7 linked regions of the Homo sapiens genome follow. The protein of the gene in region 7 purifies or fractionates together with the protein of the main gene of each other region. This does not show direct contact. Each region holds a gene or a part of one and is shown on either strand. Other genes may lie near its edges.

Region 1 (4,057 bases), on a different chromosome or scaffold from region 7:
GGATCTATCCAAAATCTAAAAGGCAGTCTTGCCAGTTGCTATGGCCCATAATGCACACACACACACACACACACACACACACACACACACACACAAAAGGGCTACTTTTTGCCATTTAGGTTCTGTGTTTGACCAGCTTTCAATTAACCTTGCTGGGGGAGAGCATAAGAACCTGGGTAAATGGCATACTGAAAGAGCTTCAGAATAATCATTGCGACCCCTCCCTGCCCCCACCCCCCACGAAGCTTATAGGCACTAACTATTCTTGTCAGCTCAATTTTCTAAGCAGAGCAAGAGCAGTGATTCATTTGATTTTTGTATGCCTGATTTCTGGGAGGTTGGGGAGGAAGACAAAGCACTGAGCAAAGAAAACCTGCTGACCAATGATGGAAAGTTAATTGTCTACTGTCTTCAAGAGGCAAAAAGAACAGTTGAATGAAATTGTAGCCTGCTTCACAAAGAGAGTTCCCCAGCCCCTTCCTACTTCACCCCTCACCCAATAGATTCAATGGTCAACCTCCTGGAGGATGCAGTAAGGTTCCAGAGACAAGCAGATCTCAACTTTGATAGGTCGTATTGCCCAATGAGAAGCCACCTTTTAGCTCAACTGCCCACACTCCAGCTGGACAGAGCAGCTGAAAAACCACACTAAGTACTGAGAAAACTTGGGCCTCTCACAAGAGAAGCCCTAGGCCTAGGCCCTTTGTTGTTATAGTTCTGAATCTGAGACTTCTGGAAACAGGCCAGGCCCACCAACTCCCTTGCAACCAGCACTTCGACACTTAAAATAATAAAACAGCTAGGCTCAGTTGCTTTTGAAAGTACTAGAACTACTTGGTGTGAAGTTCTTAACCAAATTCCAAATTCCAGGGATTTTGCCCAAAATAAAATCAATTCATCCCTGGCCTCAGTTTATATATGAATGCCACATTTGTCTGCTCCAGACTTAGAATTCCAAAAAACAGACATTTTCCTCTGTAGTAAATGAAGGAGCGTTTGTGCTTTTGCTTAGCAAAAATGAAAGGACACCAGGGTCTCCTTGGGAACCATTATGACTGGTTGAACGTTAAAGCTGAGTATGGGACTCACATAGTATAGGCCTTGTTACTTCTGTGGACTTTTCTGGAAGTTTCTTGTTTACTACTTCTAATGGGTTTTGCCTCTCCCCTCACCTTGCTACCTCTGGAGGTTTTCCCAAAAGATTCTGAACCTGAATTCTCAGACACCTTGATGTTTGTCAGTTACCTTTAGTCTTGTTTTCCTCTACAATACTCTATATGCCTGGAATTTTTAGAATATCTTCTACATCATCACTGTGGCCCACGCAGTGGTGTTCCCATTAGCACAAGAGGATTTGGGGCAGAAATCATATGGTCAGAGAGAACATTTAAGACCGGAAGTATTCATTTAATTTTTTAAATTAATTTTTTGTAAAGATGGGGGTTTTGCTATGTTGCCCACGCTGGTCTTGAACTCCTGAGCTCAAGCGATCCTCTCGCCTTGGCCTCCCAAAGTGCTGGGATTAAAGGAGTAAGCCACTGCACCTGGCCTCATTTAATATTTTGCAACAGGTAGACGTCCCAAATAAACAACCAAACTGTAAAATTTCTACTAATCACTAATTAACAGAACACAAAGCATCTTCCCCACTCCTAACACTCAACCTCTCTCCTACCTTTGATTATCATAACTCCACTCTCTCTCCCACCCAGGCACTTACCACAATGTTTGCTGCCTTCTGCACCTACGCTGCTGAGACTGGAGAAGAGAGGCTGAAAGCCCCTCTCAGAAAGGCTTGCAGAGAACCCACCACTACTACAATTACTAGTATAAATAATAATGATAATAATTTTTGAAGGTGGAATAGAGAAGAGATTTGAGTGAAATGAAGTTGGCCCTAGGAGCTCAGCTTCCATTTCAAGTCGTCCCTATCCTCTTTTTTCCTCCCCATTCCAGTTAGTAGCAACAGATGGCTCTGCTAGCCTGACTTTGATCTAGTCACCATCCCCAGGAGCGGAGGTTAATTGTTAACCAAGGATGCTTTGCATTTGGTGGGTAGTCAGTACATGTTTTTGAGGGTAGTTATTCTTGGTACAATAGCAAGCTTTGCTGGTGTCTCCTCTCCTTATCCTGTACTACTTGGCCTGCCTCAGCTCCTGACTGGGCCTCCCCCACCAGCCCCAACTTATTCCTCAGCCCCAACTTATCCCTCAGCCCCAAATCCCATGAACTGCATCCCTAGCACAACAACTCACCCATAAAGGAAGTGAGACAACAGGAAGCAAAATAATTAATGTTAGCTTAATGACCACAAACTGACCAGTTGATCTGGATAAATTACCTTGAACGTGCAAAGACAGAGGAGATCCTACCAGGCTCTCCTAACAAGCACTGCACCTGACATCCAGTGTAACTATCTGGACAACACAGACCCGATTGCAGTCTCTCTGTACCTGTCAGTCTGAGCAGATCTGTCCACGCACCTGCCCTCTTCCTCATCAATGAACAAGTTGGGAAAAAGATGAGTTCATGCTCAGTGCTCTGTTCCTCACTCGTTCCACCTTCCATTATCAAGTCTGTGACACAATGGTGAGCTTTCGCTTTAATATGATTTGCTAGGGCCAGGACTAGGGTGAGGTGAGCGAGGCACCTAGGGCGTAAAATTCAAAGAGGTGCCCGCTCTCAGGGCCATGCAAGTGCCTTACCCTCGTCCCAGCCCTGTGATTTGCACTCTTTAAAGTAATATCAGTTTATCTTCTTCCTATGAACAAGTATAGTCCTTCTGATTTGGGGTCGGGGGTTAACTCCCTATCTCTTGTTGCACCAAATATTTTATTGCTACCTATTTTTCCATTGCTATAAGTCTTTGTGTGCCTATACATTAAAGAATCTTTAATAGTGTTAATATCGGAAAACATAGTTGATTTCTAAGTAATATGCTCCAGGTGGCAAGTTAACACCCATTTCAGCAGGGATGCTCCCAAGGCCAGCCCTTCAACAAAAGAGTGACTGAGTTGACGGTCTGTCACCAGGATCCTCCCTCTCCTCTTTCTGCTCCATTCTCCTAAACCTTGCTTCCCAGCACCAACTCTCTTCAGTGCCTCCTACTTCCTTCTCCTCCTAAGAAAAACCTGCTCTCAGGAAAGGGATAAATTCATTTACTTTGAGATTATAAGGCTTAATGCTACCTCTTTTGAGGGTCAGTTGCATTTTAACAAGGGAAAAGCCTTAAGCCAATGGAATGAAGTTCTACTTGCAGAATGTTAGGCATCAACTAGTTGTAGAAGTGTATTTTTCACCATGGAAAGGCCAAATTCCCTGACGCCTAACTCCAGAATATAGAAAATATCTTAATCGCCTGGAATCATTTGAGTTACTAGCTGATGGTCAATTAAATTGTCCTGATATCCAATGCTATTCAATATGGTTACTACCAAGGGACTCTCAGAAATGGCTACTAAAAGCCACTGAGAAGGCCTAGATCATTCATATTGTACATTGACATTTTTACATAAATGGAATTAATACTACTTACCATTTGAGTAAAGAACACAAGGAATTGAAGAGTCTGTGAAAATATGTCCTGTTTGTGAAAGGTGAAACTGTCCAATCCATGTCCAATCAATGTCAGTCGTCCAGTATTGGTGGTGATTATTAAACTTATTGGAGGTACAACTTTACCTCCAATAAGCTTACCTTTACAAGCTTCTGCTTTCCCTGCTTCATCTCTGTTATGGGCTATCAGTCCAGCTTGGTGTGAAAATGAGACTATATCTATACCACAGCCCCCAATCCTTTCAAAGGCTTTGCATGTATTTCAGCTACAAGTGACAAGGATATTAGGGATTTAAAAGGATAAGAGAGTGGGAAAGATGTATAAGGAAGTGCCTTTGTCAAAAGGCAGCAAAAAGTATAATGATATAAACATAATATGAAATAAGCAAATTTTAGAATACTTTGAAACAGATTTATAGAGGAATACATAGTAAATAGTTATAGACACACATTTGGGGCATTTTTAATAAGGTTAGCAAGAAGAAATTTGCATGAGTAATGA
Region 2 (4,057 bases), on a different chromosome or scaffold from region 7:
GGCTAGTAAAGAGGAAAATAAATAAATAATAGCCTATCTTTCCTATATGAACTGTATCTTAGGCCAACCAAGTGGATAAGGAGCAAGATTTTCTTAGTCTAAAGAAAGCATGATATAATTAGAGTATCATCATTTTGTTTGTTTGTTTGTGAGTCTCACTCTGTTGCCCAGGCTGGAATGCAGTGATGTGATCATGGTTCACTGTGGCCTCGAACTCCTGGGCTCAAGTGATCTTCCCACCTCAGCCTCCCAAGTGGCTGGGACTAGCTGTGCATTCCACCACACCTGGCTAAATTTTTCTATTTTTGGAAGAGACAGGGTCTTGCTATGTTGGCTAGGCTAATCTTGAACTCCTGGGCTCAAGTGATCCTCCTACATCAGCCTCCCAAAGTGCTGGGATTATAGGTGTGAGCCACCATGCCCAGCCATCATTATTTTGCAACCCCAGTAAAATTATGTAGGCAGTAATCATAAAAGGCTGCTAGTGTCATGAGAGATACCCAACATTTGGAGGTCACATCATCACCCCTCAAGTGGTCTCGCAAAAAAAAGACTTCTTCATTGACTTTTAATGATTTTAGTACTTTAGGTATATGGGCAAAGAAAAAGAGCTAGTGATTTTTTCCTTTCTTTTTTCTCTGACATAGAAAAAAGGTAAAATTTAGGTTTATTAAAAAGATAAATTGGGCTTACTCATGAGGCAAGAACTCAATTAGAACAACAAACACTTTTATTTTATTTTATTTTATTTTTATTTTTGAGGCAGAGTCACAAGACTCTGTCACCTAGGCTGGTAGAATTCAGTGGCACGACCTTGGCTCACTGCAACCTCCACCTCCTGAGTTGAAGCGATTCTCCTGCCTCAGCCTCCCGAGTAGCTGAGACTAAAGGCATGTGCCACCATGCCCGGTTAATTTTTTTGTATTTTTAGTAGAGACAGGGTTTCACCATGTTGGCCAGGCTGGTCGTGATCACCTGACCTCAGGTGATTTGCCCGTTTTGGCCTCCCAAAGTGCTTGGATTACAGGTGTGAGCCACCACGCCCGGCCTAGAACAACAAACACTTTTAAAATAAGCATTTGTTTAGAGGACCTAGCTAAAGGAAAAAGTAGCTGCAAGGAACATTTAAGATAGGACCAAATGGACATCTTTGCTAGTATGTCAAGGTCTCTCAGTTAGACAACACAAAGTTTTAAATTTTATATTATCATTCCTACTAAAGTTCATAGATAAAGAAAAAGTGGCTGCAGGGAATGTTTAGAGCATCATTATGTCTGTCCTGCTTGTGGTTGAAACAGTTACTTAATCTCTCAGCCTGTTTCTTCATCTATAATATAATGCAGATAATAACAATATCTACCTCATAGCATTATACAAGGATTAAATGAGATAATGCATTAAAGCACACATAACTCTGAATAAATGTTATCTACAATAAAATTTATTAGTATTACATTATCCTTATGCCATGAGTCTCATACTTGTTCTATACATTCAGAAAATAGAACTACAAAATAGCATAACTCAGAAAGGTTTTAGATGCTTGTTTAATAATCAAGTTGAAGTAAACTTACAAAACGGTGTTTATTTAAATAGGCACTGACAATTTCACATCAGGCTAGTCAATAGCACCTATAATATGTTTTTTTTTTAAGTCTTTGGGCCTAAAAGTGTTTTTTTTAATCTTCACATTTATGCTATTATTTTATTTAAAGTACATGTTTTTGTAAACACTCCTCCATCAAACAGCTAAATTGTGGGCATCTATTACATATTGCCTGCTTTTCTCATGGAATGAGCCCTCTGTGAGCTTCCTCTTCCCAGAGAAGCACCACATCAACTGTCAACTGCAGACATAATTCATAAGGACAAACAGCCTATGTTGAGAATGCTAAATGTCTCAGTTGAGCCACTATTTCATAATTCTATAACAGCCTAATTCCAGATGTGTATTAGGAAAATGTTCATATTCAATGGAAACTATCACTATTACAAAGCAAATTTTCTTCTTAACCTCCTGGAACCTTATATAGCTGAGGGCTAAAACTACTCAGGTACAGCTTTTTTTCTACTTGCCTCCTGAGAACACAAAGAGAAACACTCATCATCATCATTACTATCATCATTTTCATTAGATGTATGGAAAAATTATTTTTATGTCATGAAGGTGAGGTACCAATATACTGTGGTTTTCTTCATGGTCTTTTTTTTTTCCTTAAGAATGTTGTTTAAAATTTTTTATCCTTGTATTGATTCACATGACTTAAAAAATCTGCTTATGAACTGTATCTTCCTGAAGCAGGCTATAAAATTCTAAGATGATTAAACCATTGCTTAAAAACCATTTCAGCTGCTACAGTGTCTATTGTATAAAGATGTCCAGACTGCTGGACAGGAGCAGGGATAGATCTCCTAGGTACAGAGACCAAGAGACCACCTTGGATAAGGGAAAAAATAAGTCTCAGGGTACACCTGGCAAAGTGTCACCTGTCTTACTCTTCTTCTCAGGTTTCCTAGGCTTAAGGAAACATAGCAAGAAAAAAGCAAACAGGAGAGGTCAGAGGAATGACTGCCTTCCTCCAGGATAATGAGCTAGGAAAGAAACCAAAGGCCTTAAGCAAGGCAATAAAATACGTGAAAAGTGGCAGGAGAGATATTTGATGACAGAGAAGACCACTGTATCAAAACAATCTCAGACATTTAGACTGCAGATATGATTTCAGGGAAATTTACAAACTGTGAATACAGAATTTTTTTAATTTTAAAAGTGAAATTAGATTTTGGTTAATTTATAAATAATTATGTTTGTGAAAAATTTTAGCAAATTTTATTACAGCCATGTGTTTATTGTTATTATTACTTTGAATTTTCTGTGGAATTTCTCCCTTCTCTCCCTTTTTCCTCTCCCATAATATATATTCTTCTGTAGTCTTGTTGGTTTAGTTGTTTGACTGAGAAGGCTTGAAGTATTTGAAGACTAAGATTACTGAAAAGAAAAGGGTTTTGTCTCTATGGGGTACCCACATTTGCAGGGACTATGGTTATTTAGAACGTGGATTTATAACCAGGACACCATCACTCAACAAAATGTCCCAATGACCATCAAAACAAGTATGAGGAAATAAAAAACATGCTTAGTTTTTAAACTTCAACCTCACAGTGACTAAAATCATAGTCTCTATATAGATAAGAATGCAGTAAGACCCTCTATAGACAAGAGTTCAGGGGGGCCAAAGAATGTTGCCCTAAATGAATGTTGCCCTGCCATGCCTCTTTAGAATTCTTTGATGCATGCATTGACTGACACATTGTCAGAGTTCTGGAGCATAGGAGGAGAAGCATTCACCCTCCAGAGACTGCTCTAGACTAGATCATAACACATCTTTCTGAAGTTTTCCTACAATCCAGTTTTCTCTGTTTTAACAACTACGGCTTAATATCATTGTGGATCAGCCACATTTAATTTACTGTTGTCTATATGACTTAAATTGTGTTAACATTATATTCTCCTCCAGGTGTCATTCTCTATATTCTACTTGTGGGGTATCCACCCTTCTGGGATGAAGACCAACACAGACTCTATCAGCAGATCAAGGCTGGAGCTTATGATGTATGTAATAACTATTTATATCACTTTAGATGAAGGTTTGTCTTTTGCCTGTTGACCAAGAGCCAGATCTTTTCATTTTTCTTTTAACCATAATTTTTACCACTTTCTCATATTATTTCCCTCTCTCTTAAGGAAAGGGAGAAAGAAATGCAGCATTTGTATCCAGTTTACGTTTCCTTTTAACTCACTGTCTCCTAAGATTGAAAGAAAAGCCATGTGAAGTCTCTGAGGAAGAACTTTGTCAAAATATTTGGACCTTAGTGCATTTTAAAAACATAAAAATTAAAATATTTCTGCTATAGAAATGATTATTGCCTGTTTAGTTGAATTATATTCTCAAATATCTATCACATAATTTTATATTATATACCAACAATATTTTGCTGTGATCACATATCAAATAGAACATTATCCCACTATACCAGTTTCTGGGTTTTGTTTTTTGTT
Region 3 (4,057 bases), on a different chromosome or scaffold from region 7:
TAATGTTGTTGTAACAGTGTGTGAATGTTACCTAAAATATGAAAGAGAATCACCTAATTATGTAAAATAAATAATCGGAGAAGAAACACTAAGTGCTTTTTTTAATTCCTTATGCAGCTTTTGGGGTATTGTTGTGGGAAATTGCTACCTATGGAATGTCACCATATCCAGGTATTGACCTGTCTCAGGTCTATGACCTACTAGAAAAAGGATATCGAATGGAACAGCCTGAGGGATGCCCCCCTAAGGTTTATGAACTTATGAGAGCATGTGAGTATTTTTGCATGTTTTAATTTTGAAGGCATAAGCTAGCAGTTCAGAATAGTTAACAAAATTAGAAACATTTCTCCTCTCAGTGTTGTTAGATTGAATCCAGCCTCATGACATTTAAAGAGTTTATCATTGATCAGCCAGTTGTCATATCATATACCATTGAATCTTATTGGAATCCTAAGCATAGTTGTTATGGCCCAAATATTGACCCAGTTTCTCAGAGACATTTGCATATTTAATAAGATAAGAAATTGAGTTTAGAGATTAAGGTGGGGAGGGCCGTTTTCAACTAGATAAAAATGATTGCTAAAGACTATGAAGAATGCATAAAAATAACCTCTGTGTAGATAAACAGAAGCATCCGATTGCTTGCAGATGAAAAAGTAGGAAAGTGAATAGTGGATTAAATTGCAGGGTTTTGTTTGTTTGTTTATTTGTGTTGTTGTTTTTCAAACACTCTTGCTTTGTTGCCCAGGCTGGAGTGCAGTGACGTGATTTCGGCTCAGTGACGTGATTTCGGCTCACTGAAACCTCTACCTCATGGGTTCAAGTGATTCTCATGCCTCAGCCCCTCAGTAGCTGGAACCACAGGCACGCACACCATGCCCAGCTAATTTTTTTTTTTTTGAGACGGACTCTCACTATGTTGCCCATGCTGGAGTGCAGTGGCACAATCTTTGCAACCTCCGTCCCCCAGGTTCAAGCGATTCTCCTGCCTCAGCCTCCCAAGTTGCTGGGATTACAGGCACCTGCCACCACGCCTGGCTAATTTTTGTATTTTTGGTAGAGATGGGGTTTTGGCATGTTGGCCAGGCTGGTCTTGAACTCCTAACCTCAAGTGATGCGCCCGCCTTAGCCTCCCAAAGTGCTGGGATTACAGGCATGAGCCACCACGCCCGGCCTAATTTTTGTATTTTTATTTATTTATTTATTTATTTTTTGAGACGGAGTCTCGCTCTGTCGCCCAGGCTGGAGTGCAGTGGCGCGATCTCGGCTCACTGCAAGCTCCACCTCTCGGGTTGATGCCATTCTCCTGCCTCAGCCTCCTGAGTAGCTGGGACTATAGGCGCCGGCCGCCACCACGCCCGGCTAATTTTTTTTGCATTTTTTAGTAGAGACGGGGTTTCACCGTGTTAGCCAGGATGGTCTCCATCTCCTGACCTCGTGATCCGCCTGCCTCGGCCTCCCAAAGTGCTGGGATTACAGGCTTGAGCCACAGCACCCGGCCTGTACTTTTAGTAGAGACAAGGTTTCACCATGTTGGCCAGGCTGGTCTCGAACTCCTGGTCTCAAGTGATCTGCCCGACTCAGTCTCCCAAAATGCTGGGATTACAGATGTGGGCCACCAGGCCTGGTCCTAATTGCAGTTGTGTTTGAACATAAGTCTGTGTTGTTTCCTCATTGAACATTGACGTTCTCTGTTGCACTTTGTCAAAAATGAACTCTGAGATCCTCCTTTTTGATATCCTTTTATATTTCTGAATGTATACAGTTGATTATATGGTTAGGCTGAGTTTGAAGACAGGTTTTACTTCTTTTATTTTCAAGTGGAAGAAAACTTGCCATTTTCTAAAACATCTCCTTGTTTCTCCTCATCCTTTTATTAGAGGGAATAGGAGCTGAGGCTAAATCGAAGCACCAGCCTTAGAAAGTGGGTTAATGGCCAGGTGCAGTGGCTCACACCTGTAATTCTAGCAGTTTGGGAGGCCGAAGTGAGCAGATTGCTTGAGCTCAGGAGTTCAAAAGCAACCTGAGCAATGTGGCAAAATCCCATCTACATAAAAAATACAGTAGCTTGAGATCGCTGTGTGTGCTCACTTTGGCTGGGTGCAGTGGCTCAAGCCTGTAATCCCAGCGCTTTGGGAGGCTGAGGCGGGTGGATCACCTGAGGTCAGGGGTTCGAGACCAGCATGGCCAACATGGCGAAACCCCTGTCTACTAAAAATACAAAAATTAGCCGGACGTGGTGGCGTGCGCCTGTAGCCCCAGCAAATCGTGAGGCTGAGGCTGGAGAATCACTTGAACCCAGGAGGCAGAGGTTGCAGTGAACCGAGATCGCGCCACTGCACTCCAGCCTGGGTGACAGAGTTAGATTCCGTCTCAAAAAAAAAAAAAAAATTAGCTGGGCGTGGTGTTGCACACCCATAGTCCCAGCTACTTGGGGAGCTGAGGCAGGAGGATTGTTTGAACCCAGGAGGTCAAGGCTGCAGTGAGTTGAGATCATGCCAGCTGCACTCCAGCCTGGGTGACAAAGCAAGACCCTGTCTCAAAGAAAAAGAAAAAAGGAATTTAGAAAGTGGGTTCATTATACCTCTGAGTCTAGAGCTGAGAAGTGGCTATGTTGCTATCATTGTGAACATGCTGTAACTGTACTTTAATAAGTGTGCATCATGATGCATAGAACTCATTATTAGATACACCACTGGATATTGAATTTCTGCAAGGAGTTTTTAATATTTTTTCTTCTGTTACATAGGCTGGAAGTGGAGCCCTGCCGATAGGCCCTCTTTTGCTGAAACACACCAAGCTTTTGAAACCATGTTCCATGACTCCAGCATTTCTGAAGGTGAGAATCTGTTGGATTTACTGTTGGTGACTAATTCTGGGTAGTGGTGGTGGTGGTGATAATGGTAATTACATTTCAAAAATGATCAACTTTTGTGGAGTTTGAGACTCTGTTTCAACTTTTAACTACAAGGACATTGCATCAGAGTATAGTTTATAATAGTGAGAAATTATGAACAACTTATATATCTAGTGGACTGTAAATTATTACAACCATATAGCTGAATATTTAAAATGATATTCATATATATACTTTTTTTTTTTTGAGATGGAGTCTCACTCTATCACCCAGGCTGGAGTGCAGTGGTGCGATGTCAGCTCACTGCAACCTCCACCTCCCAAGTTCAAGCAATTCTTGTGCCTCAGCCTCCTGAGTAGCTGGGATTGCAGGCACCTGCTACCACACCTGGCTAATTTTTGTTATTTTTAGTAGAGATGGGGTTTCGCCATGTTGGCCAGACTGCTCTCGAACTCTTAACCTTAAGTGATCCACCCACTTCAGCCTCCCAAAGTGCTGGGATTACATGTGTGAGCCACAGCGCCCGGCCTTCTTGGATATATTGACATGGAAAGTAGTTAAAGGTTAACTTTAACTTAGTAAACGAGGATATCCATATGTCCAATAACCATGTTTAACATTACTCATCATAGAGAAATACAAAATAAAACCACACTGAGATACCAATCCACAGCCTACCAAAAAGGCTAAAATTAAAATCAGGCTTGGCAGGCACAGCAGCTCACACCTGCAATCCCAGCACTTTGGGAGGCTGAGGTAGGTGGATCAGTTGGGGTCAGCAGTTGGAGACTAGCGTGGCCAACATGGTGAAACCCCGTCTCTACTAAAAATACAAAAACTAGCCAGGCGTGATGGCAGGCGCCTGTAATCCCAGCTACTTGGGAGGCTGAGGCAGGAGAATCACTTGAACCCGGGAGACGGAAGTTGCAGTGAGCTGAGATCGCACCTCTGCACTTTAGCCTGGGCAACAGAGCAAGACTCCCTGTCAAAAAAAAAAAAAAAAAAAAAAGACTGAGCACTGTGGTTCACACCTGTAATCCCAGCACTTTGGGAGGCTGAGGCGGGTGGATCACAAGTTCCGGAGTTCGAGACCAGCCTGGCCAACATGGTGAAACCCCATCTCTACTGAAAATACAAAGAATAGCTGGGTGTGGTGGCGGGCTCCTGTAATCCCAGCTATTTGGGAGGCTGAGACAGGAG
Region 4 (4,843 bases), on a different chromosome or scaffold from region 7:
TGAACTGTGCTTTGAATCATTTTGAAATCTCGGCTTGAATCTGAGCTGATCACTTGGGGGCAGACACTAAGGTAGCTGGCCTGTTTTTTAGCTTAATTACCCCCTTGAACCCTTTCTCTCCTGGGCCTTTGCCCTTCCTTTCTGATCACTTATTTTGGGAGCCCTGGAAGGAACTTGCCAATAATCTGAAACTCCCTTTAGGAGTGAGAGTCCCACACCACTTATTCATTGCCCCTGTCAATGCTCAGATGGGCCCGCTCCACTGGCACCCTTGCTATTAATAGGACAGTGCTAGGTAAGGGAGAGTGAGAGGCAGGGCAGCCTGTTGCCACAAGGCTTGCTAACCAGATGCCTTTAATATCCCTCATTGTTCTCCATGCTTCCATGTGTTTAGGGAGAAGTGTCTGGCTTGCCTACCCAGCAGAACTCATGTTCAGAATTTTGAACGTATTAAAAAGTCAAGCTCAATTTAAAAACAGCTAGCTCAACGCTTTTCAGATTTGTGAGATAAAAAACAAACCTTAAAAGACCTTGTTCCAAAATATTCTTTTCTTTCATTTTTTATTTGGAAACAAAACCAAATTTAAAGTTGCAAGAAATGTACAATGAACCCTGATATGCCCTTAACCTAGACTATTTTGAACATTTTGCCATATTTTGTTTTTTTCTCCCTTCATACATACACATCTTTATTATCATCATTCTTCTTCTTGTTGTTACTGAAACATTTATGTGTACTTTGCAGACATCATGGCCCTTTACCCCCAAAGCCTCAGCCTGGATCTTTTATGAACAAGGATATGTCCTTGCCGAAAATTTTGGTTTTTTTTTGTTTTTTTTTTTTTGTTTTGTAGAATAAGACAAGGGTCTGTTGAAGCCTTTAAAACCAAAGCGTGGGCCAGTCCAAAGTGCTGACTGTTGGAGCCTCCTCCCTCTCCCGCCTTTAGAGGGAGGAGAGGAGACACCACCGCAGGTCTGGAGGACTTTATTGTTGCCATAAAACATATTTTTTCCATGTTCTCTTTAGAAACACGAAAAGAGGCTGCATTCCCAAGATCTGGCTTGTGGCTTTAAAATAAAAAATATTTTTACAGTATACTTTTTGGAGGCATGAAAGCACGTGTTTTATTAACATTTCCCAAACTCTTTTTACTGACGGCATACAGCCTGCAGCCTGCTGCAATCGAAAATGCATGCCTTTTTAGAAATTATACCTTTCAGTTAACTGAAGGGGAAAACTTTCCCTTCTTCTGTAAATCATCATCTCTCTGATGGAGAACTTTAAAAATCCTGTGTATGATCAGCACAGTAGGGTGACGAGGAGGTAATGCCGTTTATCTCACCCAACGTGCAATGAGTTTCGTAAGCAGTTTTCTGGGGATTTTGCTCATTGGTGGTTTGGGTCTCATTCACGATATTCTATAGAGCCCGTGCCCAAAACAGGGGGCCACGTGATGCCTGGGAAGGGGTATAAACAGCACTCTGGCTGCTCTGGCCACATGGAGATGCGCCTACGCCCTTTGCCCTCCCCAGTTGTCTCCTTGCGTTCATAGAGCCCGGGGATCTCCAAGGAGCAGCCCAGTTTTCCCTGTAAGAACCCAAAGGTCTTGTACAGAGCTGGAATTCGGCGAAAAACTTGCTCCAACACGCCAAATCTGCCGCATCCTCAATACCCCACCCTCTTCCCTCTGCGCTTACTGCCCACACCCCTACTCCCAACTTGAGGACTCCCCGCCCCCACCACGCTGACAGTCTCAATTCCAACCCCTTGGATGTGAGGAAGTGTCTTTGCGCCTGAACGCGCCCAGCACGGCGAGGCCACCAGTGACTCCCAGCGGCCGCACAGGGCGCTGCGCCCCCCTCGCCCCGGCCTCCCCCGCCCTGCGTCCGCCCCGTCACCCCCGCGCGGCCTCCTGCGCCCGGGCTGGAGGCAGATTCCTCTCTCCGGGTTTTCAGAGCGCCTTTCCGAAACCTCCTCCCCGCCCAGCCAGGGAGAGAGATCCCGGGCGCAATCGCTCCCCGGAGCGGCCGAGGGGCGCGCGGGGAGAGGCCTGCGCCGGGGTACTTTCAAACTGAGGCGCGCGCACACACTCACACCCACCCACCCACTCACCCACACACACACAGACACACGCACGCCCATTTATATAGGCGGCGGCGACGGCAGTGGCCGGGGTGGCGACGGCGAGCACAGAAACGATGGAGTTGAGCCAGTCGACCCTGGTTGGAAGCAAGTGAGAAGAGACCAGGCGCACCCCTAAATTTCTGTGCGGAGCGCTTGTCATCCTCCCCAGGGAACGGTGCACCCAAAGGAGGACTGGCTGGACTGATTTGCTAGGGAGAGGGCGGGGAAGAGGAGGCAAGGTGAGCAGAGAAGCCCCCTGCGTATCCGGACTGCCAGATCGCGCTTTTGCCGGACTCCTGCCCCCTCCCTGCTCAGGTGGGCGCGCCCGGTCTCCAGCTCACAGGGGCGCTTGGAGGAGACCAGAAAGTCGCCGCCTGGCTGCGCGGGATGCCTTTCGCCAAGCGGATCGTGGAGCCGCAATGGCTGTGCAGGCAGCGGCGCCCTGCGCCCGGCCCAGCAGTGGACGCGAGCGGAGGCAGCGCTGAGCCGCCGCCGCCCTTGCAGCCGCCGGGCCGGAGGGACCTGGACGAGGTCGAGGCGCCAGGGCCAGAGGAGCCAGCCCGCGCCGTCCCTGCACCTTCAGGGCTGCCACCGCCGCCGCCGCCACTGCCCGCGCCGGCCGACCAGACTCAGCCGCCGCACGGAGAGGCGTCCGTGGCTGGCGAGGAGAGCACGGCGGGGATCCCGGAGGCGGCGCCCGCAGCCGGCGAGGCGTCCTCGGCGGCGGCGGCGGCGGCCGTGCTGCTCATGCTGGACCTATGCGCGGTCAGCAACGCCGCTCTGGCCCGTGTCCTCCGGCAGCTCTCGGACGTGGCCCGGCACGCTTGCAGCCTCTTCCAGGAGCTCGAGAGCGACATCCAGCTCACCCACCGCCGCGTCTGGGCGCTGCAGGGCAAGCTCGGCGGCGTGCAGCGCGTCCTCAGCACGCTTGACCCTAAGCAGGAGGCAGTGCGTGAGTACCCGCGCCGTCCGCCCGCCAGGCTATGGGTTTCTGCGCCGCACCCTCGCGCCCTCCCCAGCAGCGGCAATCCCAGCCCCGCGGCGCCGCTCCGGTTGCAGCTTGCACCTTACTACTCTCGCCTTCCCACCCTTCCCATCCCCTGGGACCCACCCCAATCCTCCTGGGGCTGAGTGGCTGGGCTGGACCCCGATTCAGTGATGCAGACGTGGACGGTGGAAAGTTAAAAGGGCGACCTCTGAAGTCGCAGGCAGCGTGGGCTGAGAAGGAGCAGAAAGGGAGCGTTTATGGGGAGCACAGGAGGCAGAGAGGGTCTGTCCTTCACCACCGGGGCTCGCCTTTCACGTCCTTCACGGGGCGTAGGGAGGAGGGTTGCAACTCCTGTGGTTTCCAGAAGCCCAGCCCTGAGCCCTGTAGCCCACACCATGCATGTTCAGGGTTGGGGGTTCCAGGAGTAGTGAGTGTTCTTTTGAGACTGCTGCAGCACCGCGGCTGTTTCGTCACTCGCTGTGACCTCAGGTGCTGCCCCGAGCTCCGAACTTGTGCCTTGCCCTCGTGTGCGACGTAGCGTGGCGCTGCTCGCCTCCTAGACTGAACTTCGTAGTGCTTCTGCCGAAAACCCTTGTGGCCCGGAGGGGCCGCGGGGAGGGTCAGGGAGAGATGAGGGTGGGAGTGTCAGGGGCCCCGGGGAGATGGAGGAGACCCCTGGGCATCTTTTCTGCTCTGAACAGCCCAGGGTTCCTACTAAATGGCTCTGTGCCATCTGCCCGCAGAGGATCCCACAGACTATCTTCCTCCTCCCCGGTGCACTGTCGCCCAAATTTACTGGCACGTGGACTTAGGTATGAACTAGTCTGCTAGGCGGGCTGCAGGGAAACGACGAGGAAGGAAGTCTGGGAGACCCCTGGGCGTCTTTGCTGTCCGTTGACTTCGCTTTTACGACACCCAAGGGCTCCCAATAAATAGTCATTCTATGTCATCTCCCTTCCAAGGGCGGTCCCCTTGGCTCCGGATCGTCCAAATCTGGCGACGGCAGAATCATTTAGGAACGACCCAGGAGGTAGACAGGGGCGCTGGGTTGGCGCGACGGTCCTTTGGCGCCTAGTCAGGCTGCGACGCTCGCGGCGAAGGTGATGTCAGCGGCTCTGACTTACGTAAGAAGCTTCCTAGGTTGCTGCCGCAGCTGCGCCGGTGCGCAGTGGCCTAGGAGCGCGCGGGGCGGAGGCGCTTTGGAGGCATCCTTCCCTGGGGATTTCCGGGCACCTCTGCCCCACAGCCCAGCTCAGCCTCCCAGCGGTCCCTGCCCGCCCGCGTGTTCTCTCCCTCTTCCCCTCCTCCTCCGAAAAACCCTTTGAACCCCGTCCCGGGAATTCACTGCTTTTCTGCAATAACAATAGTAATAAGCGTAATGAATAAATGATGTGCTCGATCGGTTTTCGCAGCTATAAAAGACCCGGAGTTGGGTTAATGACTGGTTGTTTAAAAGGGCAATTCCGGGGATGAGTTCTGGAAAGAATTAGGACTGCCGTAGGCCAAGTCGTATTTTACTTTTGGGACTTGAAATGAGCGCTTTAATCCTGCCTCCTTTTTACCCCAAACCACACAGCAGGGACAGGCCCTTCACTTTCAACAGCGCAGGTATCTGGGGAGTGCGGTTGTGGGAGTGGTGATTTCACTTCAAAAGAACTGGAGGGAAGTTTTGCAGACTGTTGAGTGGTGCATACATTTCCCGTGTGTGTGTGTGTGTGTGTGTGTGTGAG
Region 5 (4,057 bases), on a different chromosome or scaffold from region 7:
ACCATTTCCCAGTTATTTAAATTGTTTAGAGCCAATATTTTGCCCAATACCCTAAGTAGTTTAGAAACATTTATCTCAGAGGCCTCTTTGCCAGAAGAGTCTTATCTTTTACATTTGCAGATCATTTTCCCTTTTTAAAGTGATGAACAAAAATGAGACAAAATAATATTTGGTTCCTGTCAGGATAAGCCAGGAAAAATTTGTTAAGACAACTTCACTTGTCACCCTTTATGCTACCTGTAATCTTACACTGCTAAGTAACTGGTCATGTTGGTGAAGACTACATCCGTAGTTTCTGTTTTCTGCTTACAGGTATGGATCTCTTCTCCAATTGCACTGAGGAATGTAAAGCTCTGGGCCACTCAGATCGGTGCTGGATGCCTTCTTTTGTCCCTTCTGATGGACGCCAGGCTGCTGATTATCGCAGCAATCTGCATGTTCCTGGCATGGACTCTGTTCCAGACACTGAGGTGTTTGAAACTCCAGAAGCCCAGCCTGGGGCAGAGCGGTCCTTTTCCACCTTTGGCAAAGAGAAGGCCCTTCACAGCACTCTGGAGAGGAAGGAGCTGGATGGACTGCTGACTAATACGCGAGCGCCTTACAAACCACCATATTTGAGTAAGTATTACACAAAGGGCTCTGTTAAAGTGTTCCCTTTGAGGAGATAAAGTTCAACATTCCACTCTTTTTGGTAAAAATGGAGTTCAGGTTTTTTTAAGAAATAAAGATAAAAGTGACTGGATGCTGGCAGCACTTTAGGGCAATATTCTTTATTTAAAATAATAGATTCCTCTAACATTGAGACATTAATAATTGCACTGAGCTCTTTCAAAATATAGGACTATATTCTCCAAATTGATTATTTTATATAATCATTGCAAACAATAAAAATGCTTTGAGATTCCATAATATATTTCCTTTGAGGATCTTGGTAATGAGAAATAGAAATATTTTTCTTTTAGTTAATGGATAAATATTACTGGCAATTCAATATCTTGGTCAAACTACATAAATAATGTTTGATAAAGATAAAACTCATAACAACTCAATCAAAAGATGACTTACATAGCAGATCCATCCTACGTAATGTTTTATTTCATCTACTACAAAAATAACTGTGGAACTTATAAGCTAGAACGAAAGATGAGACAGATTGTAGATATGTCATTTCTTTTATGACTGATGAAATTGAAAAGTAAAAGAGTTTTTAAAAACTTAAAGGAAAAAAACAGAGGAATATTTATTTTAGCCTTTATGAAGTATAACGTGAAAAGCAAAGATTGAATGCATTGAGGTTGTGGCTATTAACCTGGACATAGATAAAGCAAATAGACAAGTGTTATATGCTTAAAGGAATGGTCTTTTATTAGATGCATACATTGTAGTGACAACAATAGGTGGTGTTTTATGAAGGATTGTTTTCAGCTTTTCAAATTACTCAGAACCACAAATACCCCAGCATGATGTACCACTTTAGCACTTCAGAACCAAAAAATCATTTGTTTTGCTTTATTTTTTTAAAGTTATACAAAGAGAGAACAAATACTTAAAGACAGGAAATATTGAGATGTCTAAAATGCAATTTGGATGCTAATGTCTTAAGTTTAACTCACAAATCCACACATGCTAGTGAATTAAAATAGCCTAAAATCAAACTTTAATAAGTGAGGAACATGATGCGATCTTTGCCTCTGAAATTGAATTCTGGATTCAAAATTTTATTTATTATTAAAAGTAAAACTTTTCCAAATTTTAAACAGCATATTTAACTACTGTTTCACTTAAACTAAGAATGTACATTATAGAAATACATTATTAATCATTTCAAGGCAAAAAGTGAAGGGTATATGATTCAGATTAATAAAAATTTGCATTTCTAAATAAATACAAATATTTGCTTTTACCATATAATAACAGGTAAATCTACTTCAAATATAGTGGGAAAATCAACTTGCCCTCTTTTGCTCTTAGTGAGTACTAATCTTGGTGAAATTACACTTACACATAGACCTGGAATTTTTAACATTTACAGATGTCTTTTCTTTACTGACTGGATTTTTTTATTAATAAGACTAATGGAAACAATTTTTATTATTAAAATATTAATGCTGCATATATTTTAATGCAAATTTTTCTATTTCTTAAGAATCTGGTCTTTCATTTAGAAATCTGATTCAGGGATTATGAAATTTATTAACAGTTATGTGTGTTGCTAAAAATCAAAAGAATGCATCTATTATTTCACCAGGAAAATTTTAATTATTTGCTCATTTTATATATATATTCATATATATACACATATATTCATTATATACATATATTCATATATATACACATATATTCATATATATGTGTATATATATGCACTAACACATTCCAACATATATTCATATATATACACATATATATATACATACATATATTCATATATATATGAATATACATATGTTGGAATGAGTTAGTTTTTAATTGTAGTTTTTTTCCCTAATCTGTTTTAGCCAGTTCACACGGCTCAAAATTTAGGGTTTGGGTTGACGTGTGACCTGTGGTGGAAAATTTGCAGAAGAATAGCTATTTTGTTGTTTTCACTTCTGCTCTTCTTAGTTCTTCATACGACTTTAATCATGTCTAGACTGGTTTTTTTTTTTAATTTAACTTTTAGTATTTAATGTCATCTTAGAGTCATCCAATTATATTTAAAATTACACCATGACTCTGACTTAATAATCATAAAAAATTTATAGTTAGTCTGATAATACAAACTCTAAAACAAAACTATTCCTGACCATTTTGCCCCTCAAATTCATATGGTGATAGTTTTTGATACTTGTGTCCTTTTTCATTCAGAATAGAAATAGTGTCATCTTCTAAGTCTAAAGTAAGTCCCTTGCATAATTAAAAAAGCTAAAAATTGACACTACTTGCTTTTAATCAGAATGTTTGAATAATTATTAAAGTTGTAGAGTTTTTTTGCTAAATATGCAGTTTCATAATGAATATAATGTACATTTTGATGTTAGGAAAAATAGCAGTATATTTAGTTATGTTTTTGTAAAGCTCTAAAAAGCCTAATGAGACTGTCACTGTCATTTATACAATAATGACAAGGAAATGACGATATGCTTAAAAATACAAAAGAGATCAATGTCAGTACAAATAACTTTTGATTTCTATACCTCCGATTGCTAAAGTTAAAACTAAAAACTGCAAGAAAACAACTTTTACACAAAAATAGATGGATGCAAACATTAAATAATGTACTTCATGTTCTTAAAAATATGCTTACACTTACATTTCTTTTTATTTTAATGTATTAACAAAAGACCCATGAAGAGTATACATGATGTATTTAATAAAAGGAGACTTTTTAAAAATCAGGAATAATTTTGAACACATCATTCAATACTTGCTGAGTTATTCATGAGCACTTTCTGAGCTTGCTTTCTCTTATTTTTCCTATAATGTTGTAGTTTGCTAAGTTGATATGGAGCAAAGGGATACACTCAAAGATTGAGTAAATAAATTTAAACAGGTAGAACATGGCCATATATTCAGAAATGCCGTATTTAGATTTACCTTAAATGTTAATGAATTTCAGTTTTACTTTACCTTTAATTTTCATTAGCATAATTAAAAACACAAAAATACCATTTCATTTTTAATTAAAATTAATAATTGCCTACAGCACTTTAAATAATCATGTTAAAATGAAAGAAAATATTTTCTGGAGTTTTAAAATAACATTGCATTTTTATCATGAACATTTTAAGGATTTGTTTAGAATCAGACATCTTATTTTAAATGATTCAGTCTTTCAAATGGCACAGTAAGTTATGTGTAAAACCATCTGGATAATCTCCATAAATAAAAATATAAAATGAATATAAAGTCAAGAATGTAATTGACAAAAGTTATATTATTAGTATAATTTCAGAAAACCCTACTAGTTAAAACACTTTAATATTTTTGTAGTCATTCCTGCTTATGATTTTGGCTTTATACTTTGAACACCATCTCTTAAGATTTTTGTCAGTAAATGAACATGAAATTCAGTTCC
Region 6 (4,057 bases), on a different chromosome or scaffold from region 7:
GGGGTGAGGGTACACGTGATGAACTATGGATTTTATTTTCAGGTAACAAGCCTCTTTCTGCTTTATCTCCAGCATCAGGCACTGGCCAAGATGATGCTGATGGCCACTCAGTGTACACCCCTGATCACTACTCTACACTAGGAAGGTTCAATAGCTGTCGGTCTGCTGGGCAGCGCTCAGAAACCAGGGACTCCAGCTGTCAGACGGAGGATGTGAAGGTCGTACCACCTTCCATGAGGAGAATCAGGGCACAGAAGGGGCAAGGCATTGCTGCCCAGATGGGCCACTTCTCAGGTTCCTCTGGCAACATGTCTGTGCTGAGCGATTCTGCAGGGATCGTATTCCCTTCCCGCCTTGACAGTGATGCTGGCTTCCATAGTCTTCCGCGTTCTGGAGCAAGGGCAAACATTCAGTCCCTTGAGCCGAGGCTGGGTGCCCTCGGCCCTGCAGGAGACATGAATGGCACTTTCCTCTACCAGAGAGGTCACCCACAAGCAGATGAAAACTTAGGCCATTTAGGAGGTGCCTCAGGGACTGGAACACTTTTGAGACCCAAATCCCAGGAGTTGAGACACTTCGAGAGTGAAAATATAATGAGCCCAGCGTGTGTGGTTTCTCCTCATGCAACCTACTCCACCAGCATCATCCCAAATGCCACACTGTCTTCCTCTTCCGAGGTCATCGCTATTCCCACTGCTCAGAGTGCGGGACAGCGGGAAAGTAAAAGTTCTGGCTCATCACATGCAAGGATAAAATCCAGAGACCACCTCATCTCCAGGCATGCTGTGAAAGGTGATCCTCAGTCTCCCGGTCGCCACTGGAATGAGGGCCATGCCACCATTCTTTCACAGGACTTAGACCCTCATTCCCCTGGTGAACCCGCACTGTTGTCCCTCTGTGACTCAGCCGTCCCTCTAAATGCTCCAGCAAATAGGGAGAATGGGTCCCAAGCTATGCCGTATAATTGTAGAAACAACCTGGCCTTCCCAGCCCACCCCCAAGATGTGGATGGCAAGAGTGAATCTAGTTATTCAGGGGGCGGAGGGCACAGCAGCTCGGAGCCCTGGGAATACAAATCCTCAGGTAATGGAAGGGCATCCCCCCTGAAGCCGCATTTAGCAACTCCTGGCTATTCCACTCCCACAAGTAACATGAGCAGCTGCAGTTTGGACCAAACGTCCAACAAAGAGGATGCTGGGTCGCTGTATTCTGAGGACCACGATGGCTACTGTGCATCTGTGCACACTGACTCTGGACATGGATCTGGGAATCTGTGCAATAGCAGTGATGGCTTTGGGAACCCCAGGCACAGCGTGATCAATGTTTTTGTTGGAAGAGCTCAGAAAAACCAAGGGGACCGGTCCAATTACCAGGATAAATCCCTATCAAGAAACATCTCTTTGAAGAAAGCAAAGAAGCCTCCCCTGCCACCCTCCCGGACAGACTCCCTCCGCAGGATTCCCAAGAAGAGCAGCCAGTGCAACGGGCAGGTGCTCAACGAGAGCCTGATCGCCACACTCCAGCACTCGCTGCAGCTGAGCCTCCCAGGCAAGAGTGGCAGCTCGCCCTCCCAGAGCCCCTGCAGTGACTTGGAAGAGCCCTGGCTGCCCCGCTCCCGGAGCCAGAGCACAGTTAGTGCTGGCAGCAGCATGACTTCCGCCACCACCCCCAATGTCTACTCCCTGTGCGGGGCCACGCCATCGCAGAGTGACACAAGCAGCGTCAAGTCAGAGTACACGGACCCCTGGGGTTATTACATTGACTACACGGGCATGCAGGAAGATCCGGGGAACCCGGCAGGGGGCTGTTCAACCAGCAGTGGGGTGCCCACTGGGAACGGGCCAGTCCGCCATGTCCAAGAAGGGTCCAGAGCCACAATGCCCCAAGTGCCCGGTGGTTCAGTCAAACCAAAGATCATGTCACCAGAGAAGTCACACAGAGTCATTTCTCCATCCAGTGGGTATTCCAGCCAGTCGAATACACCCACAGCACTCACCCCTGTGCCTGTGTTTTTAAAATCAGTGTCACCAGCAAACGGGAAGGGGAAGCCCAAGCCCAAGGTACCAGAAAGGAAGTCCTCTCTGATATCTTCAGTATCCATTTCCTCATCGTCCACTTCTCTTTCTTCTAGTACTTCTACTGAAGGAAGTGGCACTATGAAGAAGCTGGATCCAGCCGTGGGCTCTCCCCCGGCTCCTCCTCCTCCTCCTGTTCCCTCTCCTCCATTCCCTTGTCCTGCAGACAGGTCTCCTTTCCTTCCTCCCCCACCTCCTGTCACAGATTGCTCCCAGGGCTCTCCTCTGCCTCACTCTCCTGTGTTCCCCCCTCCGCCGCCAGAAGCTCTCATTCCTTTCTGCTCCCCACCTGATTGGTGCCTTTCTCCTCCCCGCCCTGCACTGAGCCCCATTCTTCCAGATTCACCTGTGTCCTTGCCATTGCCCCCACCTCTCTTACCTTCCTCGGAACCCCCACCTGCCCCACCTCTTGACCCCAAATTCATGAAAGACACCAGGCCGCCTTTCACAAATTCTGGCCAGCCAGAATCCTCCCGGGGATCCTTGAGGCCGCCTTCTACCAAGGAGGAGACCAGCAGGCCCCCCATGCCCCTGATAACCACGGAAGCATTGCAGATGGTGCAGTTGAGGCCCGTGAGAAAGAACTCAGGCGCTGAGGCGGCACAGTTGTCTGAACGAACAGCTCAGGAACAACGAACTCCAGTTGCTCCACAGTACCACTTAAAGCCATCTGCTTTCCTGAAATCCCGAAATAGCACAAATGAAATGGAGAGTGAAAGCCAGCCTGCCTCTGTGACAAGCTCGCTTCCGACGCCTGCCAAGAGCTCGAGTCAGGGTGACCATGGCAGTGCGGCTGAGCGTGGTGGCCCTGTGAGCCGCAGCCCTGGAGCTCCAAGCGCTGGGGAGGCAGAGGCTCGGCCCAGCCCCAGCACCACCCCACTCCCAGACTCTTCACCCAGCAGGAAGCCACCCCCCATTTCCAAGAAGCCCAAACTGTTCCTGGTGGTACCACCTCCGCAGAAAGATTTTGCAGTGGAGCCCGCAGAGAACGTGAGCGAAGCCCTCCGAGCTGTGCCCAGCCCCACGACGGGAGAGGAGGGCTCTGTGCACAGCAGGGAGGCAAAAGAGAGTTCTGCAGCCCAAGCTGGCTCTCATGCCACGCACCCTGGCACCTCGGTTCTTGAGGGAGGAGCTGCAGGATCCATGTCTCCCAGCAGAGTGGAAGCCAATGTCCCCATGGTTCAGCCTGATGTCTCACCAGCCCCCAAGCAGGAGGAGCCAGCCGAGAACAGTGCGGATACTGGGGGCGATGGGGAGAGCTGCCTATCTCAACAGGACGGAGCAGGTGAGTCTGGCTTCCTGGCTTCTCTCTCCTGTGCCCTCTGCCCATATGCAGCTGAACCAGATAGGGTTGTTGAATGCTCACACGTGGAAAGAACCCAGGTAGATCAGATTCCTGTTAAAGCTAGCAGTATGTAGGCTTCCTGTGTTAAAACACAGATTAAGTTACCAACTTTGCATTTTGTTATTATTTTTAAAATCTAGACCTAAAGGCATGGCAGAAAATAGGGGGATGGAGATGATCTGCAGCAGGCTGGGTATTAAATAGCAATGGGTAACACCTCCCTTCCGAAGAGCCGCGCAAAGAAACGTTGCAACAAAATTTAAGAGAGATGCCATGGGCGTTCCATACTTTAACAAAGAATGAGCTCTGGCTCTCAGGCTAGTGTCATTTCCTCCCTTCTTTGTAAACTATCAAACTACAGACCCACGGCATCTCCCTGTGGTTCTCACATTGTCGGGAATGGCAGGGAAGCAGCATATTTAGAAGCTTGGCTGAGGACTGAAATTCCAGTCACTTGTGCGTCTTGTATGCCTGCCTGCTCTTCTGTAGCTGGGGTGCCGGAGACCAACGCAGCCGGTTCATCCTCAGAGGCCTGTGACTTCCTCAAGGAAGACGGGAATGATGAGGTAATGACCCCCAGTCGACCCAGGACCACAGAAGACCTTTTTGCAGCTATTCACAGGTATTTCAAACTCCT
Region 7 (4,057 bases):
TGTCAGGGTTTTGCCATGTTGGCCAGGCTGGTGTTGAACTCCTGACCTCAAGTGATCCATCCGCCTTGGCCTCCCAAAGTGCTGAAATAGGCGTGTGCCACTACGCCTGGCCATGAAATTGTTAAATTAGTTATGGTATCTATAAAGGTATTAAAAAGAATATTAAAGACATTTTTTCTACTACTGAGTGAAATAAGCAGATTACAGGCCAGTATGTATGGTATGATCACATTAATGTAGAGAAAACAACAAAAATAGTATGTTGTTGTGTAAGTTTAGAAGAAAATAAAACAAACAAGATATTAAAAATAGTAGTTGTCAATTTACTTTTAACTTTTTCCTCCAAGTTACCTTTGCCACGCCTCCTCCCCCGCCTTTGCTGTATGAGAAAAAATTTGGACAAAAACTTCAGGTGACTATGAGGAGCGATTTTTTTCTCAGCCTAGCAGTGGTAGAGAATGCCTTATTTTCATCCTTATGCCCTTTCACATATGATTCCAAAGTGTACATATCCAAATTCCTACTTTACCTCTCCAGAGATCACTGCCAACAAAGTTATTACCTCTCTAAGATCCTAATATTTCAAAACAAACGGCATTAAATCTTAGTTTTGACTGCTCACTGTGTAAATCAGACTATTTCAGGTCTGAACTATGCCATTTTAAAATTTCCCTTTTTAAAAAATCTTTATGGAACAAGTACAATTTTTCGACAGATAGTGACAACTACTCCCTACTTTAAATATAGGCTGGACAAATCATACACAAAATAATAGCATAATCTCATAGTACTTCAATTTCATTCTACTCTCTATGTTTGAAGAAAGAAAAACATTATAACTGAGTTCACAGCAGCCTTCTTTTATCTTAACACAAGTTACCAGTGTATACATAAGAAGCTGTGAACAGAAGCTCTTTATGATATTCATATACAAAGCTGCTGAGAAACAGCCTCAACAATGCCAATCAAAGAGCAAAACATTGGGTTAGTTTTCAAACTAAATGAGCTGCTTTGCCCTCCATGCCAACTATTAAGCAATAGGCCCTTTTATGTCTTTCCCATTCATTACTGACTAATGCAGCAGTTCTCAACATTCTCACTAGTCCCATGATCACTCAATTTTTTTTCCCTATTCTTTTAAATAACTCTATTTGGTTACAGATAAAATGAGCAAGTTGACAGCATACAAGTTTTCTTTAAGTTCTTAATTTTTAAGAAGTATTGTGTAATTTTATTTTCTAATTTTGGTATTTTTTTCAATAAAATGTTTTTTAAAACATTTAAACAAATCATATAATAGCTGACCTGGTATCGAATGCTGTACTTAGACATTCCTAAACCATTATTTTTTATATTTCAAACTAAGTTTAAACAAAAACTTTATTATTATTGAACGAATATCCAAGGATCTTAAAGAAATCAATCGAAGTGTGATACAGTCTAGTGTTTATTTTATGTTATGGCAGGTACACTTGAATTTCAAAAATTTAAAACATATATAAAAAGTGGTTAGGGACTAACATTTGTATCAACAGTTGATAAATGTCTAAGATTGTTTATTATACAGCAGGGTACAATGGTAGTGCTAATGCCAACAGGGCACCATGGAAGTTAGTCTAAAAATTATCGCTAGGCTTTATACAAGCAACAACATATGCTGCTGCTCTTAGAATTTTGGGAAATGATCTGCTTCTAATACTAAGCAGTTCTTTAACATTTTTAAATGTTATACAGTGTTACAGTATTTAGTTTGGCAAATGTTTCAAAATAAAGTAGAAATGTATTCATAACATCACAGAAATGCACATCCAATGTTGTTTTCAATAAGAACCATAGGTACAGATCAGAACTCTTCCCTATATGAAATAATTTACACACAGATGAATACTATAATATCACTATCTAAAATAATCACTAAATACAGTTCTTTTTCAGAAATAAACAAGCAAAGATTTTTTTCATTATCAAATATCAAAAACATGTTGATAATGTATGTTTTTCAAATAAATGATACTTTAAAATTATAGGAATAATCTCAGTGAATTCAGTGAATGTGCAACCTAAATCAACCAAGTATACTGTAGTACAACCATATTAAGAAACCAATGATCAGAAAATACAACCGTATGAAAGAAATTTATAATCCACAAAACTTTTTCAGGTCTTAAGGTAAAATAGTTCCACAGTCTACAGGTAAAACCAAGGCAACAAAAATGCGTGCTTATCTTGATTAAGTAGGTAATTTTATGCAGAAGATGTAACACTTTGTTTGTAGACAGCATGGTATGCATTTCTCAGCAAGACATAAGGAAAACAAGATTCCAAAAGATCCATTGTAAGGAATGGAGATTCTTGTACAATCTGTAAAATTCAAAAAATCCATCAAAACAAGTTATTTATAACTTGTTTATAAACAAAAATCATAAGTTATTTATAATGGGAACATTTATTGACAACCAGTAAGGCATAACTTCTATATTGTTCTTATTAGCAATAGACACATATTATTTTCCTTTTACTTAATCTAAAATGTAAATGTGCCACAGTGAATGTATATCAAACTGTTTAAAAAGAGCTACTTTTCAATTAAATTTATTTAATCAACAGGAATATATTGAGCACTTTCATTTTCCTCACTGATATACTAGAAATAAAAGACAATACAAAAATATTTTTTTTTTGTACTATCAACTCTACCTGGCAATCAAAGACTAAGCTAGGAAGCAAAACCAAACATAAGACCGACTATAATGAAATGGAAAGCTGTAAATTCTGTAAGAATTCAAAACAGAAGAAAGATTAATGTAGGCCAAAGTAATCAAGAAAGACTATCTGGAAAAAGATTTGAGCTGTGGGATGTGCTAAGTCATTAGGATAAATCCAATTTCTGCAGGTAAGGAAAATAACTCTAAGTGGGGAAAGAGCCACGTGGTAGAAACAAGCAAGAGCTGGTTCACAGATACTGCAGAGAGGGAAGTGACTAGGCACAGAGAATTACAGAAAATTACGAGAAATGGGCAGAATAGAGTTAGAATGTAGAAAACTCAGAAAACTGGAAGAGAGGTGACACCAATACACTAGAAAAATACAAGGCCTGAGTGTTTTCCAACAGGTTGAAAAACTGTTCATAAAAGAATACCCACAGTTAATGCTAACCTTTGATTGTTATCTTCTGATATTACCGAAATGATAAAATATGAGTGATGTCAGTCTTCTCTGCAAATTTTAGAAAGGTGTGGCTTACGTGAAGTGAACAAAAGGGATCAAAAAAAGTATTCAATGACTAAGATGCCAAGAAAAGATTCTCAGGAACGACTGGAACTTTTTTATTGTTAGTAAAAATTAAAATGAGACTTACCATATCTAGCAGTAAATAAACAGATTCTCTATTTCTTGTTGTAGTTTTATCTGTCTCCTGGCCAATTTTCAGTAGACTGGAGGATGCAAGCTTAAAAGTATACATACACATAAAGTGAGTTTGTTAATAAAAGGTTCATCGGTTACTTATTTTAGGTATGTTTCAACTTCCAACACATTTCAATCATTCAGTGCTAAATATAAAATAATGAGCAATTAAATAAGATGAGCTTAGATAGCCTACATTCAAGCAGTAATTTAGAGAGTAATTAAGGCACAAAGAGACACTAACATAATAAATGTAATCAAATATTCTTATTGGTCTTTAAAACTGATTTTTTCAGAACAAGTCTGCTTTTTAAAATGATTCAAATTATTTTCTCTTATCCCATCCCATTATCTATACTGACTATATTTCTTAGTTCCCAAGGAAGAAGACAGTTTCACACTGGATTTGACTTCACAGAAACACTGTAAGATTAAGACATTAAACCCTGAGTGAAGGAATTATTTGCAAATGGAAAGAAACACTTAAAATTTTTAATAGTGTTTTCCTTGAAATAGAAGTTATTTTCTCCTCAAGTTAGTACTATATTTGCATTTGTAATTTAAAAATTATTTTTTAAAAAAGCTGACAGGATTTATAACTGAAAAAGAAGTAAATGTTCTAGAGTTCAGTATGCCATGGTATATCTTTCGT

Evidence for each region.
Region 1: the proteins of NCKAP1 (region 7) and NHSL2 purify together in Homo sapiens (affinity purification with mass spectrometry; 3 studies listed by BioGRID and IntAct, with this or other methods). This does not show direct contact.
Region 2: the proteins of NCKAP1 (region 7) and CAMK2D purify together in Homo sapiens (co-immunoprecipitation; one large-scale study listed by IntAct). This does not show direct contact.
Region 3: the proteins of NCKAP1 (region 7) and ABL2 purify together in Homo sapiens (affinity purification with mass spectrometry; 2 studies listed by BioGRID and IntAct, with this or other methods). This does not show direct contact.
Region 4: the proteins of NCKAP1 (region 7) and NHS purify together in Homo sapiens (affinity purification with mass spectrometry; 2 studies listed by BioGRID and IntAct, with this or other methods). This does not show direct contact.
Region 5: the proteins of NCKAP1 (region 7) and PCDH10 purify together in Homo sapiens (pull-down; one large-scale study listed by IntAct). This does not show direct contact.
Region 6: the proteins of NCKAP1 (region 7) and NHSL1 purify together in Homo sapiens (affinity purification with mass spectrometry; 2 studies listed by BioGRID and IntAct, with this or other methods). This does not show direct contact.

The regions. Positions count from the first base shown.
Region 1 is NC_000023.11:72,144,652-72,148,708, forward strand, and holds part of NHSL2 (NHS-like protein 2), read left to right. Parts: 3' UTR 1-4,057.
Region 2 is NC_000004.12:113,517,116-113,521,172, reverse strand, and holds part of CAMK2D (calcium/calmodulin-dependent protein kinase type II subunit delta), read left to right. Parts: intron 1-3,515; coding exon 3,516-3,610; intron 3,611-4,057. UniProt on the Homo sapiens protein: Calcium/calmodulin-dependent protein kinase involved in the regulation of Ca(2+) homeostatis and excitation-contraction coupling (ECC) in heart by targeting ion channels, transporters and accessory proteins involved in Ca(2+) influx into the myocyte, Ca(2+) release from the sarcoplasmic reticulum (SR), SR Ca(2+) uptake and Na(+) and K(+) channel transport.
Region 3 is NC_000001.11:179,111,091-179,115,147, reverse strand, and holds part of ABL2 (tyrosine-protein kinase ABL2), read left to right. Parts: intron 1-117; coding exon 118-270; intron 271-2,749; coding exon 2,750-2,839; intron 2,840-4,057. UniProt on the Homo sapiens protein: Non-receptor tyrosine-protein kinase that plays an ABL1-overlapping role in key processes linked to cell growth and survival such as cytoskeleton remodeling in response to extracellular stimuli, cell motility and adhesion and receptor endocytosis.
Region 4 is NC_000023.11:17,373,246-17,378,088, forward strand, and holds the start of NHS (actin remodeling regulator NHS), read left to right. Parts: upstream 1-1,954; 5' UTR 1,955-2,512; coding exon 2,513-3,077; intron 3,078-4,843. UniProt on the Homo sapiens protein: May function in cell morphology by maintaining the integrity of the circumferential actin ring and controlling lamellipod formation. Involved in the regulation eye, tooth, brain and craniofacial development.
Region 5 is NC_000004.12:133,162,665-133,166,721, forward strand, and holds part of PCDH10 (protocadherin-10 isoform 1 precursor), read left to right. Parts: intron 1-312; coding exon 313-618; intron 619-4,057.
Region 6 is NC_000006.12:138,429,696-138,433,752, reverse strand, and holds part of NHSL1 (NHS-like protein 1), read left to right. Parts: intron 1-72; coding exon 73-3,360; intron 3,361-3,909; coding exon 3,910-4,042; intron 4,043-4,057.
Region 7 is NC_000002.12:182,923,458-182,927,514, forward strand, and holds part of NCKAP1 (nck-associated protein 1), read right to left. Parts: intron 3,449-4,057; coding exon 3,359-3,448; intron 2,362-3,358; coding exon 2,245-2,361; 3' UTR 1-2,244. UniProt on the Homo sapiens protein: Part of the WAVE complex that regulates lamellipodia formation. The WAVE complex regulates actin filament reorganization via its interaction with the Arp2/3 complex. Actin remodeling activity is regulated by RAC1.